Homo sapiens: one gene and its partners. The protein of the gene in region 6 purifies or fractionates together with the protein of the main gene of each other region. This does not show direct contact. Each region holds a gene or a part of one and is shown on either strand. Other genes may lie near its edges. The genes, in order: CLCC1, HIGD1A, TM9SF3, ROBO1, RIOK3 and SLC16A9.

Region 1 (3,480 bases), on a different chromosome or scaffold from region 6:
AAATTCATTCTGGGCTATTTCTTAACAGATTTAACAGCCTAAGACAGAGGCAGGCAAACTTTTTCTGTAAAAGGCCAGATAGAAAATATTTTAGGCTTTGCCGCCCATATGGTATCTATTGCAACTGCCCAACTCTGCCATTTAGTAGGGAAGCAGCCATATAGATAGTATATAAACATATGTATTGATGGGAAAATGAAAATGACTTCATTTACAGAAGCCGGCACTGGGTTACAGTTTGCTGTCCCCTAGCCTAAGACGTGATTTTTTTAAGGTAGTTCCTCATGGGGTTTGTACATATTTCTAAAGATTTGTTAAGTTACACAGTTGATGCCTGTTAGATTATAACCTTGAACTGTCATACTTAGATACAGTTGACCTTGTCTTTTATCCTTGTGACCAATTATAATTAAAACAGTATGACTTAACATAATGCACGTACTAAACCAATGAAGCAGCTATACCTATATAAGCCATTTTAAAGGAAAAATTTTATGCAGTTTCAGGTTTAAAGATTATTTCTTTCAGAAATCAGGCTGGGAACTAAAGAGAACAATATAAAAACAAAGATTAATTTCTGAGAAGCCCCAAATAAAAGTTTACAACTGCGTTTTCTTGTTGTGACTGAGAGATTTAACATAGCTTGGTGCTTTCTTTCCCACAGTATGTCTTTTAATCTCTCTCATAAACTTCTAGGGATCCAGATTAGATGATCAAAGATGTGCTCCACCACCTGCTACCACAAAGGGTCCGACAGTACCAGATGAAGACTTTTTCAGCCTTATTTTACGGTCCCAGGGAAAGAGAATGGATGAACAGAGAGTTCTTTTACAAAGAGATCAAAACAGAGACACTGACTTTGGGCTAAAGGACTTTTTGCAAAATAATGCTTTGTTGGAGTTTAAAAATTCAGGGAAAAAATCGGCAGACCATTAGTTACTATGGATTTATTTTTTTTCCTTTCAAACACGGTAAGGAAACAATCTATTACTTTTTTCCTTAAAAGGAGAATTTATAGCACTGTAATACAGCTTAAAATATTTTTAGAATGATGTAAATAGTTAACCTTCAGTAGTCTATTAAGGCATTAATACTTCTCTGGACATGCGCGTTTGAGGGTGGAGGGGTCCTGTAAGGTGCTTCATCGTCTGTGATTACTGCTTGGGATGTGTTCTTTGGCAGCTTGTGAGATTACTTTACCTAGTGTTTATAAAGTAGGAAGTTAAGTGAATCATAGATTAGAATTTAATACTCTTATGGAAATAATTTTTTAACATCTTAATTGACAATGGCGTTTTTTTATACATAACCATGGATGTAGTGGGAAACAATGTTGTTTGGTAAAAATAATGTACTTGATCAATGTAAAAAAGTATATAAAATAGTCTTACTAAAAATCTAGGTTTTTTTTTCCTCCATGAAAATCTGTTTTTTTAGGCCAAAGTCAGTATAAAAGAAACTCTACTTCTTGGGCTGGGCATGGTGGCTCATTCCTGTAATCCCAGCACATTGGGAGGCTGAGGCAGGAGGATCGCTTGAGGCTAGGAGTTCAAGACCAACCTGGGCAACATAGACCCCCGTGTCTATGAAAAATAAATCAGCAGCCAGGCGCAGTGGCTCACACCTGTAATCCCAGCACTTTGGGAGGCCGAAGCGGGCGGATCACTTGAGGTCGGGAGTTTGAGACCAGCCTGGCCAACATAGTGAAACCCTGTCTCTACTAAAAATACAAAAATTAGCTGGGCATGGTGGCATGCGCCTGTAGTTTCAGCTACTTGGGAGGCTGAGGCAGGAGAATCACTTGAACCCCTGGGAGGCAGAGATTGCAGTGAGCTGAGACCAAGCCACTGGACTCCAGCCTGAGTGACAGAGCAAGACTCTGTCTCAAAAAAAAAAAAAACAGCAAGCATGCTGGCACACACCTGTAGTCCCAACTGCTTAAGAGGCTGAGGCAGGAGGACCACTTGAGCCCAGGAGGTGGAGGCTGCACTGAGCTATGATCGTGCCACTGCACTCCAGCCTGGGTGACAGAGCAAGACCCTGTCTCTAGAAAACAAGTATCTTTTGTGTGTTTTGGGCTGTTTAAAAAAATTATTTAAAATGGTCTCTTCTGTTCCATAATACTGCTGTAAAACAAACTTTTCTAAGTTCTAATATAAAAACAAAAAACAAAACCCATGTGGTTAGGTCAAGAACCTAGGACACATAAACAAACAGAAAACAGATGAAAACTCACAAAAATTAAATATGAAAGAAAGATGTCAGCTAGAACCTTAGTTGTCATTAAGCTTTGTCTTCCTTATCCCAGATATTGAAGGCAGTTTACAAGGGGATGATAACAAAGTAACTAACTAACTGTAGCAAAAGACAAGTATGGGACAGACTGGGACCTGGAGTAACACTGGATCACAGACTGCAAAGGCCCACGCTTGGAACAAGTTGCCAACTTGTTTCACTCTGCTTGCTTCAGACTGTGCACAGCTGGGATGGGATCTGGGGATGTGGACCCCTATTCTTTCAAAAAGTCATTCAGGTGATTTGGATGGGCAAATAGAACTATTTCTCTAATGGCCAATGTTTTTTAAGAGTCATAACCTGGAATTAATTACATTAAGTGCTCAGCTAAAAAAAAAAAAAAAGTTCTAAATTACAACCTGGATTACATTATGTTTCATGTATACTATAAGGTATGATGTCCTGGATAGCATTTTAAAAACTCAGGTAAGTTTCATGGGGTTCTTATAAGAAAATTCAGTTAAGACAATATACCAAACCACAACGTAAAAAGTTTGTGTATACAAACTTTTTGTATTATTTGTACACAAAGTACAAATTTGTATTTGTACACAAAGTACAAACTTTGTGTATTATTTTGTGTATACAATAGTTCTTACAGCCTGTAAACATTCAACATTATTCCATTTAAACATTGTTTTTAACAGCTGTCTACCCTGTTCTGATTTTCCTAAAAGCTTCACACTATATAGGCTGGGCACAATGGCTCATGCCTGTAATCCCAGCACTTTGGGAGGCCGACAAGGGCGGGTCACTTGAGGTCAGGAGTTCGAGACCAGCCTGACCAACATGGTGAAACCCCATCTCTACTAAAAAATACAAAAATTAGCCAGGCATGGTGATGCACATCTGTAATCCTAGCTACTCGGGAGACTGAGGCAGGAGAATCTCTTGAACCTGGGAGGTGGAGGTTGCAGTGAGCCGAGATTGTACCACCTCACTCCAGCCTGGGTGACAGAGCAAAACTCTCAAAAAAAAGTAAAATTTCAAAAAAGCTTCACAATATAAACCTTAATTTTAATGACATATTGGCTAGTCAATAAACAAGTCTTATCTCATCTCATCTCTTTTCTGATAACAAACACCCGATGTGTTCAATTTGCTTTCATATTTAAGTCTTTCCTGAATTGCTGTCATCATTCAACAACAGTTGCATGTCGCCTTGCTAGCTGTCAAAGTAGACTT
Region 2 (3,500 bases), on a different chromosome or scaffold from region 6:
CCGTTTCCCCTGTACAACCCATTCATTTTTAGCACCATGTTAATTAAAAATAGTGAAAAATTTTAAATTGATGTTACTTTTATCAATTAAAATAGTAGCTACTAATTTTCTGGCTATCTTCATCCTTAATCAACTATTTAACTTGACAATTTTAAGTTACTCAAACCAAACTGACAACTCCTATTGAACCTTCAATATCATGTTGGAAATCCTACTTAGCACTTTTCGGTGTAGTTAAATGCAGTCTTTATTGCTTTCAACTGCTGATTTATTTATTCCAATGTGCTTCCTTGCTTCAATTTTCACTTCAGATTAGTTTCCAGTCTATTACAGTAATCTGTTATCCATGGTGGTTGCCTCTGGGGAAAAGATTATTCTGAATAGCCAAAGTTTCTACCTAGCTCATTATTTACTCATTTTAAGAACAAAGCTTTTATTTTAAATATTGGTAGAAATGTCTCCTTCATAGCCTTTTAGATTTTTTTAATGACCTATGATTAGTTTTTTTTCTTTTTTGAGACTGAGTCTTGCTCTGTTGCCCAGGGTGGAGTGCAGTGGCACGATCTCGGCTCACTGCAACCTCCATTTGGCACACACCACCGTGCCTAATTTTTTTGTATTCTTTAGTAGAGACAGGGTTTCACTCCTGACCTCACGTGATCCACCCACCTCAGCCTCCCAAACTGCTGGGATTACAGGTGTGAGCCACTGTGCCAGCTTATGATTAGCTTTTTTTTTTTTTTTTGAGATGGAGTTTCGTTCTTGTTGCCCAGGCTGGAGTGCAATGGCGTAGTCTTGGTTCACTGCAACCTCTGCCTCCCAGGTTCAAGTGATTCTCCTGCCTCAGCCTCCCAAATACCTGGGATTAGAAGTGCCTGCCACCATGCCTGGCTAATTTTTTTTGTATTTTTAGTAGAGATGGGGTTTCACCATCTTGACCAGGCTGGTCTCGAACTCCTGACCTCAGGTGATCCACCTGCCTCCCAGTGTTGGGATTACAGGCATGAGCTACCACACCTGGCCCTATGATTAGCACCTTTTAACATCACTGCAGCACAAAACTGAATTACCCTCAGGGTCTTCTTAATATCTTCTAAGCTTCAGATCTGCCTTCATTTACATACCTTATATCCCCTAGGCTTCCTTTTAAAACTCTACCCTCTTTTTATAATTCCTTTAAATGGTATCCCAAAGGCAAGATCTAGCCTGATAGTGTATGAGTAAGGGGATAGGAAAAAAAAAAAAAGGATTCATTTTCATTATCACAGGGATCAAAGGCTCCTTTCCTCCTTTTCAGTCATCTCCGTGAATAGCCCTTTTATCACAATGAGGCATTAACAAATGCTATTTCATTTTAGCCACAATAACAAAGTATACTTTCTTCACTGAACTATTTTGAATTGCAATAAACTTTACTCACAGATAAAATAAGGGCCTGAAGCATAGTGTAAGCATACAAGTCTCTAATTAGTGTCAATTACAATAAACTTAAAAGTCTATGCCCATCCTAACACCCATATAAAATCTTACTTTCACTTCTGGGTTTTTCATGTGCATTATGCTCCCTTTGATAAAAGTACCTCTCATTCAACACCTTGCTACTCAAGGGGAGTCAGTGGCAGTTAAGGTCCTCAACAAAAATGCAACTCCGGAGGGGGTGGTGTGCTTAGTTTAGAAAGTGAATTCATCCCTATAAGCCTCACCTTCATTGAGAAGACTCAACTGTCATCTGACATAGAAGAAAATCTTAGCTAAATAAAAGAAAATTTAGATTGGACTTAAACCTTCTTTTTGTACTCCATTACTTCTTAACTGAATAAACTCCTAAGTAATGAGCTTTATTATATATAAGGTTCAATAAGCTCAAGGTTCAAGATACTCACTATATATCTGAATAATACAATATAAACACTAAAGTAATTAATCGTTCAAAAATTAGTTGTTGTTTTTTTTTTTAAAAAAAAAAGAGAAATCATGTAACCGCCAAACAGGTTCACCTTGCCCGCTGGCTAGACAGAGCTGATTTACCAAGACAGGGGAATTGCAATAGAGAAAGAGCAATTCACCCAAAGCCAGCTGTGTGGGAGACCAGGATTTTTATTATTAGTCAAATCAGTCTCTTGGAGCATTCAGGGATCAGTTTTTAAGGATAATTTGGTGGGTGGGGGAAGGCCAGAGAACAGAGTGCTGATTGGTTGGGTTGGAGATGAAATGGGAAGTTGAAGCTGTCCTCTTGTGCTGAGTCAGTTCCTAGGTAGGGGACATAAGATCAGACGAGCCAGTTTATTGATCTGGGTGGTGCCAGTTGGTCTATCAAGTGCAGGGTCTGCAAAATATCTCAAGCACTGATCTTAGGAGCATTTTAGGGAGGGTTAGAATCTTATAACTTCCGTCCCTCTCCCTCTCCCTCTCCCTCTCCGTCTCCCTCTCCGTCTCCCTCTCCCTCTCCCTCCTTCTCCGTCTCCGTCTCCGTCTCCGTCTCCGTCTCCCTCTCCCCACGGTCTCCCTCTCATGCGGAGCCGAAGCTGGACTGTACTGCTGCCATCTCGGCTCACTGCAACCTCCCTGCCTGATTCTCCTGCCTCAGCCTGCCGAGTGCCTGCGATTGCAGGCACGCGCCGCCACGCCTGACTGGTTTTGGTGGAGACGGGGTTTCGCTGTGTTGGCCGGGCCGGTCTCCAGCCCCTAACCGCGAGTGATCCGCCAACCTCGGCCTCCCGAGGTGCCGGGATTGCAGACGGAGTCTCGTTCACTCAGTGCTCAGTGGTGCCCAGGCTGGAGTGCAGTGGCGTGATCTCGGCTCACTACAACCTCCACCTCCCAGCCGCCTGCCTTGGCCTCCCAAAGTGCCGAGATTGCAGCCTCTGCCCGGCCGCCACCCCGTCTGGGAAGTGAGGAGTGTCTCTGCCTGGCCGCCCATCGTCTGGGATGTGAGGAGCCCCTCTGCCCGGCCGCCCAGTCTGGGAAGTGAGGAGCGTCTCCGCCCGGCCGCCATCCCATCTAGGAAGTGAGGAGCGCCTCTTCCCAGCCGCCATCACATCTAGGAAGTGAGGAGCGTCTCTGCCCGGCCGCCCATCGTCTGAGATGTGGGGAGCGCCTCTGCCCCACCGCCCCATCTGGGATGTGAGGAGCGCCTCTGCCCGGCCGAGACCCCGTCTGGGAGGTGAGGAGCGTCTCTGCCCGGCCGCCCCGTCTGAGAAGTGAGGAGACCCTCTGCCTGGCAACCACCCCGTCTGAGAAGTGAGGAGCCCCTCCGCCCGGCAGCTGCCCCGTCTGAGAAGTGAGGAGCCTCTCCGCCCAGCAGCCACCCCATCTGGGAAGTGAGGAGCATCTCCGCCCGGCAGCCACCCCGTCCGGGAGGGAGGTGAGGGGGGGTCAGCCCCCCGCCCGGCCAGCCGCCCCATCCGGGAGGGAGGTGGGGGGTCAGCCCCCCGCCCGGCCAGCCGTGCCATCCGGGAGGGAGGTGGGGGGGTCAGCCCCCCGCCCGGCCAGCCGCCCGG
Region 3 (3,500 bases), about 37 Mb from region 6:
TTTGTTCTCTAACTTAGTAAAAGAACTTAGAAAACAAATCTTTCCTCTGAACCCACTAAACTGAACATAAATTAATCCTTCTACCCATTCCCTGAATTTTAAGCAGTATTTAACAGTATTAGACATATTCTTACTTGGTGGCAAAACTTGGCTTGAACTAACAAGAGGTTACACTATTTATTTATCCCACTTCGGGTGAATGTTCTTATGTTTTCCTGAAAAAAAATTAATATTATTTGATTACAGGGCATGGTTACAGACCACACTGGGCATTTTACATCTTTCTTAACTCTAAAAATCCTGAATTGTGGAAACTCAAAGACTTCCGGTAAGAAATTATGACCTACCTCCCAACATTTAAAACTTAACACTCAGTTAAAATGTTTCTACAAATATAATGTAAATGTTTACTCACCATATCATCCATTTCTTCCTCTTTACTGTACCGAGCATAATCTTTTCTTAATGTTCTCATTAAAATCATTGAAACTAAGCCCACCAAGAAGATCACCATCATGAAGGAGTTGAAAATTGAAAACCAATGAATCTAAAATAACAGAAAATAAAATGTTACCAACCTGCAATATCAGCCACAAAATTCATAGGTTCCATGAGGACAACCGGATGTTAATGCAAAGAAAAAAAAAAGTCTTTAATTAAATCCTTTAGACAAAAATCCAAATTTCAGACACTTTGAGGATGAGTATTCATTATGCCAAGGGGATTGGCTTTCTTTACAATAAGCACCCATATGTTGAAAACATGCTATCATTTATATAAATTTTCAAAATCAAATTTATTGTTAAAAACAAAAAGTACAATTTGGCCATATAACCTATGCTATTCAGCATTACATGGAAAAAACATGGGCTCTGGAGTCAAACATTGCCAGTTTCTGACTATGTGACCGCGGTTTTCTCATCTGGAAAATGGAGGAGCTAATACTTATCTTGTAAGTGATTTGTAGGGCTTAATAATGTATATATAAAGTATGGCACCTTAGATACTCAGTAAATGTTAGTTCCCTTCCCCCTAATTGAACAATCTGAAAACCTCCTTAAAATACTAAGACTAAACTATTATAGCTGGCTGCCATGGACTTAGGTCACCATCCTGAATGATTTGCTTCACTTGCTCCAGATTAGTTCATCCTCACCCTGTCACCATCATAATTCAGCCCTTTCCAAATCCATTTTCCATAGCATATTGAGGTATCCTTTAGTTCCTCAATGTTCTTGAAGCTCTTGGCTTTGATTTTATCCACATATTTGTTTCAATATTACATCTAGATTCTGATTCATAATCACAAGGTACTACTCAAAATGTAGCATATCTGATTTGAACTAGGTCTGTGGCACTGCCCAGTTATTTCTTTATTTACATTTTAATTCCCAAAAGATCTTTAGGGATAGTCCCCAAATTTCTCTCCTCTCTTCAAGGCCCCAATGCCATCCTTTCTGCTGCCTTCCCTTGAAGCAAATCCTGTCTTCTATGACACAACCTTTCCACATCCAGTTTTGAGGTGTTTTTTCTCCTCTCATTTTGCATCCCAACCCCTCCACCTTTCACCAGCCATCAGCAATCTCCAAAGGTCCTTATCTACAATGATGTCTACTCCCTGGGGTTGTCATAGAGTTTAAACAATAAAGGTAAAGCAAATAGTATAGTGCCTGGCACATCATAAACACTAAATAAAACCTAAAAGTTATTGTTATTGCTATTATTCTCTTTTGAAGTGTTTGCTTCATCTTTTGTCCCTCATTCTTTTCATCTTCTCACCTCCCGATCCTTTCAATGTCAATACTTTTCAAAGAAGACATGTTCCAGTTCTTCCCTCACTTCCTCCAAAACACAATACAATCTCACTTTTGCCCCACAAAATTTCTCTCAAAGGCCTGCAATGAACTTCTAAACCGATTCAGCAGCCAATTATCTGCCTCACTCTCCTTGATCTCTCTGCCACATCTGACCTTTCCTGACACTACAGCATCCTACTTCACTGACCGCTGCTTCTCCTCTTTCATCTTCCATGCTGGCTCCTCCCATCCTTTGTGAACTTCTCCAAAAGCTCCAGTCTTAGTACTCTGCTGTGACTTCTTTAGGCTCTCAGAACTTTTAACCAGCATTCCAATGATGATGATAACACCCTCGCCCCCACCTCCCATCCCACCCCAAATTGCTAGTCTTCTTTCTCACTCATGTTTCAGGCTTTTGCTAACTACAATAATTTCCACTTGAATGTTTCTGGAATTGCAGACTCAGACTGCCCTAAAGTACACTCATAATCTTCCACCTCATATATAACACTTGTTTCTGATTCTCTAACTTCTGCTAATGGTACTAACATGTGGCTTTGAAATTTTACAATTATCTCTGGCTCTTCCTTCTCCTTAATTCTTCATAGGTAATATTAAGCATGTATTTTTCTTCAAAATGACTTGTATCTATCCATTCTGCTTCATTCCCATGCCATCACCTCATACCTTGATAGCACTAATGGCCTCCTGGTTGGCCTTTTTTTTTTTTGGTCTCTCCCCTTCCTTTCAATTTATCCTGTAAAAAGCTATCAAGGAAATCTTTCCAAAGCAGGTTCATATATCACTCCTCTATTCTAAAATTTACAGTTGTACACCCTATTTCTCTCATATCAAATCTAAACTATTTTCTCCAATATTCTATACTTCCTGTAATATGGCCATCTCACCTTATCTAGTCAACTTTTCTTTCCATTATATTCTATATTCCAATAAGCCTTATCCCTCTTCAAGAATCCACAAGCACAGCATACTCACTTCCACCTCTGTATTTTTCTTATAATTTCTTCTCACATAGATCTACTTCTACTCCCCTTAGCAAATTCTACCCAGTCTTCATATTCCAACACAAGTACCTTCCCCTCCATGAAACCTCTTATCTACATATTCCGGTTCTTCATAGATATCCTCCTGCTCTAAAATTCTACAGGTACATACATATGCATTGCTGTGTATGATTAGGACATATGTTAACTTGGGCTAACGTGCTGAATATGTGCATGAAACTGAAGGGCAGTCCAGGCTCTGTTATCCACCCTGAGGTTTCAGGAACGAGATAAACTCTATGGATCTTCTTGAAAAACAGGAGACAGCCTCTTCAGAAGACTATTCCTTACTTCATTCAACAATTTATTTATTGAGCATCCAGTAAAATTATAAAGGAACCAAGAAATGCATTGTTTTTTGAAATGTTTGCTCAAAAAAGGTTATATAAATCTGAGTTTATTGTAAAAGTATCATTTAAGGTTCATAAAAGCAGTCTATGATTTTCCAAAGATTTGATTTTGTTCCCACCCTGAGATGTTAACCCAGAAAAGCTCAAGAGGGAAAGAAAAATGACACATACCATCTTTTAGTCAATTTATCAAATTTTTTAAAATAAAAGAAGTTTTATATAGTTACTAGTAACTATACTAATTAGACACACATAAAATGTTGTAATTTCTAACAAGGCTCTGCTATTTT
Region 4 (3,500 bases), on a different chromosome or scaffold from region 6:
CTTTGCAGGACATGCTGAAATCTGCAAAGTTGCAAAATTATCCTTACCAACACAATCATTAGTATAATACAACTCTGTGGCAGCTATCCACTGAAAATTAAAGCATTGATGTTATTACCATGCCCTGTAAAACTATTTTATTCATAAATTCATCTCCTTCTAATTTTACTGTGAGTCTATTCTTCCCAACACTGTCCAATAGAACTTTCTCTGATGATGGAAACCGTCTGTATCTGCTCTATCCAAGACAGTAGCCACCAGCCACATATTCATTGCATAAAATTGGCTATCTAAACTGAAACTCTAAATTAAAATAAATTTAATTTAAAAATCAGTTCCTTTGTTGCACTAGCACATTTTCAGTGTCAATAGGCACATGTAGCTAGTGGTTAGAGTATTAGACAGTACAAGTTTAGATAAATACAGTGATATATTGTTGTCATCTTTGTCCTAGTTAGTCACAGTCTGATTATTAAGATTGACACAAATAATGCTGTACTAAAGGGTAATACAGGTAAGTGCTCAGTCTTATTCAAACACGAATGAGAGAGAGATGATCTTTCTATAGGAATATGATTCAGAAGGGTCATAACAATAAAGTTATATCTTGAAGGATGAACATATTCTCTACAGAGAGAAAAGAAGAAAGGTATTTTGAGAAGACAAGAAGGGGAAGGCAATGAGTTGGAAACAGAGTGGTGTGTTGAGGGAGGGTAAAGTGTACCTTGTATTGTAAGGCAGACTATACTTAGGAGACAGGTGGGGAAAGGGAAAGAACTTAGGAAAGTAGCCTGGAGTCTATGAAAGGCAGAGTGCTGAAGAACTCAAACTTGAAGTCATATAAAAAAGGGCCAAAAAGAATGAATAAAAGCACACAATAAATTTGTTCATTTTCCAAAATAATTTCTTTCCTTTATCAGAATTGTGACAAAAACCATTAACTGGAAGAAATCAAAATTATTGGTATGAATATAATTTATATTTGGTATAGAGATTAATTTTAGGTAAGCTTATGAATTTATGCATCTGTCATTGGCTAAACCAGGCCATTTTTTAACACTCTCTTAAATTAATACCCAATATTTAAATAATCCAATACTTGTTTAGCACAAAGCATGCTTGTTTAGTATGAGGTTTTTAATTGGAGAATAAAAAGTAAATTCTTACAGAATACTTTCTATGACTGCGTATAAGTAAGTGAAGTTGTTTTACAATCTTCCTAGTTCCTCATTCCAGGGTAAAATTTAATATAATATATACAATATGATGGAATAATTTCCTTTCGAAACATTTTGTGCTTGGATTAATATTTTTGAGTGCTTATTCAAGGGTTACACATTGATCAGAAGCTGTTGGCTGTTGTGCTGAAATGTTCTGTCTCCAGGTTCTAATTCACCTGGCAAATGGTCAGTCATGCAACAGTCGTACAGTGAGTCATGCTTCTTCCTTCCAAGTACTGAAGTCCATTTCTAAGGTTTACCTTTGCTATAGTCCTATACACAAGGAAAGTTCATCCTTAGTAAACAGGATTCATTAATATACTCTATAAAGAACTAAAACTAAGTAAATGACGCTATGCATAGCTAAGGACTCATTGAACATGAGCAATTCACATACGATTTAAAGAGATTATACAGTTTGTCTTAAAAAAATGGTCTTTAATTCTGGCTAAACATAATCCGATTTTGTTTGAAGTCTTAATTAATGCTTTTCACTTTGGTTCATTAACATTGTGATGATTCAGTGAGATGACCATCCACAAACCAACCTGACAGACAATAACCAGAAACAAGTGTCTCACATGAGGACAGATGCCAACCAGCCTTATAAACAAATGGCAGTGCTAGCCCACCCACATATGGAACACTTATGAGTGGCAGTCATATTTTTCAGCACATAAAACAAAAAATCAATTCCAGGTAGATCAAAAGACCTGAATGTAAAAAGCAAAACTGAGGCGGGGAGTGGTGGCTCATGCCTGTAATCCCAGCACTTTGGGAGGTTGAGGTGGGTGGATCACCTGAGGTCAGGAGTTTGAGTCCAGCCTGGCCAATAAGGTGAAACCCTATCTCTACTAAAAATACAAAAATTATCTGGGTGTGGTGGTGTGCATCTGTAGTCCCAGTTACTCGGGAGGCTGAGCCAGGAGAATTGCTTGAACCTAGGAGGCGGAGGTTGCAGTGAGCCGAGATCGCGCCACTGCACTCCAGCCTGGGTGAGACAGTGAGACCCTATCTCAAAAAAAAAAAAAAAAAAAAAAAAAAAAAAAAAAAGCACAAGTGAAAAATTTTCAGAAAAAATATAAGAAGTATTTTATGACTTCACCATAAAGATTGGTTTCCCAAAACAAGATGGAAAAAGGAAAAATGTAATAAAAGGTAATCAATTTTAACAAAGCACAGTGTATATCATATTTGAAAAAACGATACAAAATTATTTCCTTCATTAAGAAGAAAAAAGATAAAACAGCCTAGGAAAATATATTTCCAATGCAATACCAAAAAAAAAAAAAAAATAGAATCCAGGATATATAAAGAATTTGTATAATCTATAAGAAAAAAGATAAATGTCTCACTAGAGAAATGGGTAAAAATTATGTTTAAGCAATTCACAGCAAAAAAAAAAAACCTGAATGTTCTATGAAAACATGCTCACCACACTAATAATCAGAAAAGACAAATTAAAACCATTCAACTGGCAAAATTACAAAATGTGACATTATTAAATATTCATGGGGGCTTTCACAAGTATAAGAGATTATACAGTTTGTCTTAAAAAATGGTCTTTAATTCTGGCTAAACATAATTACAAATTATGTAATTTTGCAAATTACAAATACTACAGGGTACTGTTATGGGTTTGGGGGCAAAAAAGAGAAGAAACACATTACACGTCATCAGCAATTTCACTTCTAGGCAAATATCTAAAAAGTATGTGTGCACAGTGAGACATGTGCCAAAAAATTGCTACAGTCTGTTATAGTAAGAAAAATACCTATAAATGAGAGAGAAAAACATAAAATATAATACATATTTTAATACTGTATATATACTATAATATATATGCACTATATTATATATGAAATATATGTACTATATATAAAATATACTATATATTTTTACCATACCTACTAAATATATAATAATAATATATTTAAAAATATAATATATGTATATACTTATAGTATTTATAGAACACTATATTGCAATGAATATGAATAAAGTAACTGTACCCGAAGCAACTTGAATTAATCATAAAAAAATATTTCCAAGAATGCAAACAATATTTGACAATTTAGGCTAATATTTTATTTACTTAAGACAATACTATATATGAATTAAATATGTAATATATACAGTAAACTCAAGAGAAAATGCATAGAAATAATAACAGCAAATTTACCACACTGGTTACCTCTTAGAAGGGAGATTCAATCTGGAAGAGTACCCAGAAAACTTCAATATTACATTTAATCTTTTATTACTTAACCTGGGTGGTAA
Region 5 (3,177 bases), on a different chromosome or scaffold from region 6:
CTAGCTGGATAAAGATAGTAAATATTGACCCTTGCAATCAAGTTAAAAAAAATACATGTATGTATGACTATTTGTGTATACTTGGATGCACGCACACACACACACACACACACACACACACACACACATAGTAATTTCAACTCAAAGGCAGAATCATTAGGAATAACCTAGTTTTTAAGCGAGTAAAAATTACTGGCTCAGCCAGGCATGGCAGCTCACTCCTGTTATATCTGTTATCCCAACACTTTGGGAGGCCAAGGAGGGAGGATCTCTTGAGCCCAGGAGTTTGAGACCAGCCTGAGCAACATAAACTCCATTAAAAAATAAAAAATAAAAAAACTGGCTGGACACGGTGGCTCACGCCTGTAATCCTAGCACTCTGAGAGGCCAAGGCGGGTGGAACACCTGAGGTCAGGAGTTCGAGACCAGCCTGGGCAACATAGTGAAACCCGTCTTTACTAAAAATACAAAAATTAGCTGGCGTGGTGGCACATGTGTCCCAGCTACTAGGGAGGCTGAGGCAGGAGAATTGCTTGAACCCAGGAGGCAGAGGTTGCAGTGAGCCGAGATTGCACCACTGCACTCCAGCCTGGACGACAGAGTGAGACTCCATCTCAAAAAAAGAAAAAAATTACTAGCACAATCTAAAATATGGTTTCTGTGAAAAGTAGGATTTTGACAAATGGATTCAATGTATTATTTTTGTAGATAGAAGCTTTGGAGAAAATGAATGAAGATCACGTTCAGAAGAATGGAAGGAAAGCTGCTTCATTTTTGAAAGATGATGGAGACCCACCACTACTATATGATGAATAGCACTAATACCCACTGCTTCAGTGTTAACACAGCAGTGATTGTCAGCTGCCAATAGCAAATGAAGTTATGGGTGACTTGAAATACCAAAACCTGAGGAGTGGGCAATGGTGCTTCTGTGCTTTTCCCCCTTGTAACCCATGTGCCAGATGTGTGGAATTTTTAGCTCAGCATTGAGAGAATAAAATGTCACTACCTCTCATCTTATGAACAGGATAATATAATTCTTTAACAGCTATAGGTTATCTGGCTGAAGTAGACCTAATTTTATGTGACTTGTGGTGTAAAATGTCTTGATGATAATTTTTAAAACTTGGGTAACACTTCCAAATATGGGAGGAAAGGACAGATGTGTTTACAAGGGAGGATTTTACAACATACTTGCTTTATTCACCTCCCTGTTTTGTGTTGCGTCTTTCCTTGAATATTTTATTGGCCCAGAGTTAGCCTTTCTCAATTATGTTTCCAGACTGTGGCCGTGATTCTAAAGGAAAATGTGTGCTCTTTAGTGGGTAGAACAAATGGAAATTTGGTTTCAGAATGGCTGACAGAAATCGACATAAGTCATGTAATTTTTGTTGATATATCATGAAAATGAACAGAATTCTTTTTCCATACTTATATCTAAGAAAAGGCATCATAGGTTTCTGAAAGAGATAACTATATAACAGCTTTTTAACTATCCAGTCAACTTTCAGCTTTTCTACATTTAGGTAAAATGGTTAGGATATAACTCATGGTGTGGCTAATCTACATTTATCAATAAAATGTAAATTATCTGAAAGGACAGAATATAAGATTTAACCATGTTTGACGTATTTTAATTTAGTTAATGAAGCAAAATTCAGTTTATATTTCACTAGAACTGTGTACTTGATTGATTTTCAGAGAAATATCACAAATTAGAAATATTAAATCTAAGGATGAAAGGTATATATAAAACAATTTGGGGGCCAGGCACGATGGCTCAAACCTGTAATCCCAGCACTTTGGGAGACCAAGGCGGGTGGATCACTTGAGGTCAGGAGTTCAAGACCAGCCTGGGCAACATGGCGAAACCCTGTCTCTACTAAAAATACAAAAATTAGCCGGGTGTGGTGGCACTTCTCTGTAATCTCAGCTTCTCAGGAGGCTGAGACAGGAGAATCGCTTGAACCCGGGAGGCAGAGGTTGCAGTGAGCTGAGATCATGCCACTGCACTCCGGCCTAGGTGACAGAGGGAAACTCCATCTCCAGGAAAAAAAAAAAAAAACCCAATTTGGATACCAAATTAATCAACTAATTTGAGCTATCTGGCCTTACTCTTAGTAGTTTTTAGTACGTGCTGGACACCACTTTTAAAAAGCAATCACTGTGCTAGAAAAGTATATTGGCTTTGTTAGGATTAAAGTTCATTAACTTCAATGTAATCATGCCTCCTATTACTGAAGTCAGATTGGAACCACTAAAGATCCAAACTTTCTGTCTGGTAATAGAAAGTAAAAATCTAGACATCATTTACATTTGAGAAAGCTGTTTTTAACATTATTTTAAAATGCCAAATATGTTCTTTCTAGAAAAATATTTATTTTTGTTTTTGTTGGATAGCTTTTAATTACATTTCAGAGAGGTGTAATTTTGGGTAGATGCTCATTACATTTTTGAAAGGTTTATGATTCCAAAATAAAGATTTATATGACTGGTGATACTGGCTTTACAGAAATTTCAGAGAACTAATTTTTAAAATCTTTAGCATTTAAAACTTTTTTTGTTTTGTTTTCTGACATATTCTGACAAAGAGCAGCAAACCACTGCTGTGTGGCATTCTTGGAGTGTGCTGTGAATGTGCTTTTTAAGAAATTAAAAAGAGATCATTTTAAAATTGGTTCTTTGTGTGGTATCTTCCTGTTCCTTATATTAACTTATGTCCTGGTACCAAGTTGCTGTTTCTGTATAAAGTTAAGCAATGCTATTTTAAGTAGATTATTCCCCCTCAACTTCTCATTGTTAGATTTCAATCGCAAATGGCCTACTTCACATTACAAATAGGTTCCCCCCCTCACACCTTGTAGATTAGAGAGTAGATTTTTTTCCCATAGTAGAAAAAGAAAGTGAAAAATACTGGTTTGCTAAGTAAATAAAAAATCAAATACTGGCTGGGCGTGGTGGCTCACACCTGTAATCCCAATACGTTGGGATGCTGAGGCAGGATGATCACTTGAGCCTAGGAGTTTGAGATCTGCCTGAGCAGCATAGCAGACCTCATCTCTACAAAACATTAGGTGAGTGTGGTGGCATGCATCTCTGGTCCCAGCTACTTGGGAGGCTGAGGCAGGAGGATTCTTAGAGCTCAGGAGATCAAGCCTGCAGTGAGCTATGGTCACA
Region 6 (3,942 bases):
AATCCAGCTTGGGAACCATGGCGAAACCCCATCTCTACAAAAACACAGAAATTACCTGGGTGTGGTGGCACACGCTTGTAGTCCCAGCTACTCGGGAGGCTGAGGTGCGAGGATCACCTGAGCCTGGTGAAGTCGAGGCTGCAGTGAGAAGAAAGAGAGAGAGAGAAGAGAGAGAAGAAAAGAGGGAAGGAAAAGAGGGGAGGGCAGAGGAGGGGAGGGGAGAGGAGGGAAGGGAAGGGAAGGGAAGGGAAGGGAAGGGAAGGGAAGGGAAGGGAAGGGAAGGGAGGGGAAGGGAGGGGAAGGGAAGGGAAGGGAGACTTGAATCTAAAATTGTTGAACTCAGAGAATAGAGTAGAACCCTGGTTACCAGTAGGTAGGGTTGGGGTGAAGAGATGTTTGTCAAAGGATACAAAATTTCAGTTAGATAGGAGCAATAAGTTTAAGAGATCTATTGTGCAACATAGTGACTATAGTCACTATAGTCACAATTTTGAAAATTGTTAAGATGGTAGATTTGAAGTGTTCTCACCACACCAAAAAAAAAAAAAAAACAAAAGATAAAAATGTGACGTAATACATATAGGTTAATTATGTTGGTTGGGCCATTCTACAATGTATTACTGTTTCAAAATACTGTGTTGTGTGCATCATAAATATATACAATTTTTATTACCTAATTAATTAGGGGTTTGAAAGATTGAGGTAAGGAAGTAAAACTTGAAAATGTGACCACATCTCTGTAGTTGTCATCCTCTAGCTTGAGTTGCATGGCCAGATCCACCCCAGACCACCATAATGTGTCCTGATAAAGATTCAGACACCAACCAATTCACACCACCTTTTCAGACTCAAAGTCAGAAGCCAGAAAAGATTTCCTAATGTCTTGATCTACCTCCCCATATCTTTGGCTCCTCCCAATGCTCTTCCTATGGATATGAAGGATACCTGTTATTCCACTTGCCTACACAAAAAATGGAAGAAACCAGTAGGGATGTTATTAGGGGGTCGGTGGTGCTGAAAGTCTGAGTTGTTGCAAAATTGCAGGTTAAATTATTTTATCTAATTCCTACTTGCGAGGACTTTTTTTTGATGGTGGAGGGAGAGCGGGACTGGTTTCTGGCAATGATATGGGTACTAACCATGTTTTCTGCATTTACATATTTATTATTAATTATTGCAACAGATAATAGAAAATGACTTTACTCTGCATTTGGTCCAGGAAAGTGGAAGGGTTTTCCTATTAGAAGTTTTAAAAGAAGCTATAATCATGCAACAAATAATCATCCTTTCTCTTCGGAATCTTCTCTAGCTTCCTCAGCCCTCTGCCTAAACCTGCCTGAAGAATTTCTCGAAGCTGAAGCCAACTCAAATATAAGAAACTGTTAGGGCATACCGATTTACAGAATTTGATGGAACAACGGAAAATCCTGGGTGCAGGGAATGGGAGAATCCACCTTCAATATGAACTGTTATTCAGTTAATTCAAGATTTTTAAAAAACACATCAAAACTGTAGCCTAGAAAATTGACCAAAAATGTTATATCGAATAACTTACTATATAAGTAATATATTTAGCGTAAATCCTGACTAAACTTCGGGGATAGTTTGTGTTGGATAGACTAGGCACCCAGAAAACAAGGTAAAGCATTGATTTGCTTTTGACAGCCAAGTTTGTTCGTGGTTATCAGCTCTCTGGAAAGCCTCTGGGCGCTGCTGAAGCCAGAGCAGGTTACCTAGGGCGAACCAAAGATGGGGCATTAAGCACCAAGTCCTCCCAAGTGCTGGCTGAGGGTCCAGGTGGGCGCGGTGCCGGTGCCTCCTGCGGCGGTGGCGAAGGCTGGGCTCCCGCGCTCGCCCAGGGCTGCCGGGTGGTGCTGAACCTGGCGCCAACGTGCAGAATCCGCCGGCCCTGCGCGCTGCGCTCCACGTAGGTCAGGAGTACCCGCGGCGCCCCATTCCCAACCCTCCGGGGGCACCTGGTTGCTCGCGCTCCGGACCAAGGCAGTTGGAGGCCTTTCGGTCCTCTGGGAAATGGAGGCCCACCTGCATCACATGCACCTCTCCCTGCTCTTCCACCAGCAACCCTGGAAGCTCTCTGGAGTCCAGAGGCAGCTCTCTGGGGGGCCACCGTACCACCCCCAGGACCCCCTCCCTCTCTTTCAACTCCGTACAAAATGCCGCCTTCGGATTCCCGGGAAAACTTGCCCACTTTGTAGAAGCACCCCATCAAAAAGGGGGCGGCGAGGGGCGGGCGCACCGTGGACACTCGAAGCCCCCGGCACACACCCCAGACAAAAGCCCGGTTCCATGCTGCTCCACCGCCCCCTCCTACTGCTCCGAGTCGGAGTTACTTCTTGCCTCTAGGACGCTGGGCAGCAGGGGCTGCTGCCCACCTTTGGAACCCTCCCCGCAAGCTCCAGCCCTTTACCTGAGTCCCGGCCTCGGCGGGGCCTCCGGTGCTCAGCACCCGGCTCAGTGCCCCGTGCGGCCGGGCTGGTGGTGTGGTGGGGATCGCGGCCGCCGCTCTCCCCTGCAGCTCCGGGCCAGCCGGGCGGCTATTTATCCGAGCCAGCTGCGGCCCCGGCCCCTGCCGGAGTATTAGGCAATCGGTCCCGCTACGCGCTGCCCCGGGAGCCGCCGCCCTCTGCCCCCACAGACCCGCAGCGGCGGCGGCCACATGGAGCTGGGGAGCCGGCCCCCTTCTCTGAGCTCCACCTTCTCTTTCGCCTTCTCCTCCCCGGGGTTTTCCCTGCTGTCTTTTTCTCCCTTGTCTCTCTTTGCGGGGCACCCCGGCCAGTCTGAACCGGTTGTGACTGCGCGGGTGGTTGGGGGAAGGAGGAGGAGGAGGCGGAGGAGATGGAGGCGGAAAAGCGGGCGGTAGGGGCGCTGCGCCTGCTCCCGCTGCTCCCGGCCCGGCCAGGAGTAGGGAGGGCACTGCCCGAGCCGCGGCCCCGGCCCTACCAGGCCTGGAGCCACCAAAGCCACGAGAGAGGTGGGCGCCGTCGGCCAGGCGCCCTCTCGGTGCGCACACACGCGCGTCCCCAGGCGCCGCTGTGCCCCCGCCGCCCACCACGTGCCCTGGCCAAGCCCGCCAAGGGCCGTGCGCGTTTGGGGGGAGCCGGGGTGTACAAATGAATGCGAGTGTTCCTTGGTCTCCCTGGCTCCCGGGGCCGCTGGCGCCCTCCTGGCCGGAGCTGTATGCTCAGCTGGCAGTGGTCCCGGAGAAACGGGCACCAGAACTTTGTGGAGTCCGTGATCCTGGGAAGTGAGGAGTGAGGATGCCAAGTACAGTCCTTTGTGACAGCTCCGCGGGAAAGGAGGGCGTCCTGCGGTGCACACACACACACACACACACACACACACACACACACACACACACACACAGGCTGCTTCTAAGGACGTTCAGTCTGTCCTGCAGTTGAACTGCACTAACAATACTACCATTGGCAATACTATCTTTGGTAATGGGCTTGCGCGCAGAGATGGATGGCTGTTTTATCCCTCAGTCACTGCAGCAGCTGGGGGCTGTCCATAGGTACCAGTGGTTCGCCGGCCGTGGGAAACCTCCAAAGTGATATGCACTTTTTGTGTTCCTCTGTGTTTTTTCTGGGAAGCCGCACCACACTTTCTACTTCTTAAAGGGGACTGCGGCCATCAACCACCTTGATGAGAACTTCCTTTATACACTGAAGTGACAGGTCCTGGCCTAGACGAAGACTCTACACCTGGCAAAGGGTTGGTTTCAGAAGTGCTGATCAAGCTGCTGAGCCTCTGTTTCCTTGTCTATGAAATTACAAGAATCTTGCCTGTATCATGGAGTTTGTGTGAGATGAGAGTTTAAAAAACCTGTGGAGCCTAGGCAACCATGTCATGTTTTCTTACAGCACAAATGTGGTGGAGGTTCAGCCCTTTTGGCCCCCATCAGTCCTTTCTACTCAATTT

The links.
Region 1: the proteins of SLC16A9 (region 6) and CLCC1 purify together in Homo sapiens (affinity purification with mass spectrometry; one large-scale study listed by BioGRID and IntAct). This does not show direct contact.
Region 2: the proteins of SLC16A9 (region 6) and HIGD1A purify together in Homo sapiens (affinity purification with mass spectrometry; one large-scale study listed by BioGRID and IntAct). This does not show direct contact.
Region 3: the proteins of SLC16A9 (region 6) and TM9SF3 purify together in Homo sapiens (affinity purification with mass spectrometry; one large-scale study listed by BioGRID and IntAct). This does not show direct contact.
Region 4: the proteins of SLC16A9 (region 6) and ROBO1 purify together in Homo sapiens (affinity purification with mass spectrometry; one large-scale study listed by BioGRID and IntAct). This does not show direct contact.
Region 5: the proteins of SLC16A9 (region 6) and RIOK3 purify together in Homo sapiens (affinity purification with mass spectrometry; one large-scale study listed by BioGRID and IntAct). This does not show direct contact.

What each region holds. Positions count from the first base shown.
Region 1 is NC_000001.11:108,929,005-108,932,484, forward strand, and holds the end of CLCC1 (chloride channel CLIC-like protein 1 isoform 1 precursor), read right to left. Parts: 3' UTR 937-3,480; coding exon of another isoform or gene 697-936; 3' UTR 501-696; downstream 1-500. Other genes in the region: GPSM2 (G-protein-signaling modulator 2), read left to right, coding at 697-936. UniProt on the Homo sapiens protein: Anion-selective channel with Ca(2+)-dependent and voltage-independent gating. Permeable to small monovalent anions with selectivity for bromide > chloride > nitrate > fluoride.
Region 2 is NC_000003.12:42,794,491-42,797,990, forward strand, and holds part of HIGD1A (HIG1 domain family member 1A, mitochondrial), read right to left. Parts: intron 1-3,500. UniProt on the Homo sapiens protein: Proposed subunit of cytochrome c oxidase (COX, complex IV), which is the terminal component of the mitochondrial respiratory chain that catalyzes the reduction of oxygen to water. May play a role in the assembly of respiratory supercomplexes.
Region 3 is NC_000010.11:96,552,513-96,556,012, forward strand, and holds part of TM9SF3 (transmembrane 9 superfamily member 3 precursor), read right to left. Parts: intron 548-3,500; coding exon 416-547; intron 1-415.
Region 4 is NC_000003.12:79,757,999-79,761,498, forward strand, and holds part of ROBO1 (roundabout homolog 1 isoform a precursor), read right to left. Parts: intron 1-3,500. UniProt on the Homo sapiens protein: Receptor for SLIT1 and SLIT2 that mediates cellular responses to molecular guidance cues in cellular migration, including axonal navigation at the ventral midline of the neural tube and projection of axons to different regions during neuronal development.
Region 5 is NC_000018.10:23,480,464-23,483,640, forward strand, and holds the end of RIOK3 (serine/threonine-protein kinase RIO3), read left to right. Parts: intron 1-708; coding exon 709-816; 3' UTR 817-2,677; downstream 2,678-3,177.
Region 6 is NC_000010.11:59,707,051-59,710,992, forward strand, and holds the start of SLC16A9 (monocarboxylate transporter 9), read right to left. Parts: upstream 2,801-3,942; 5' UTR 2,429-2,800; intron 139-2,428; exon of another isoform or gene 56-138; intron 1-55.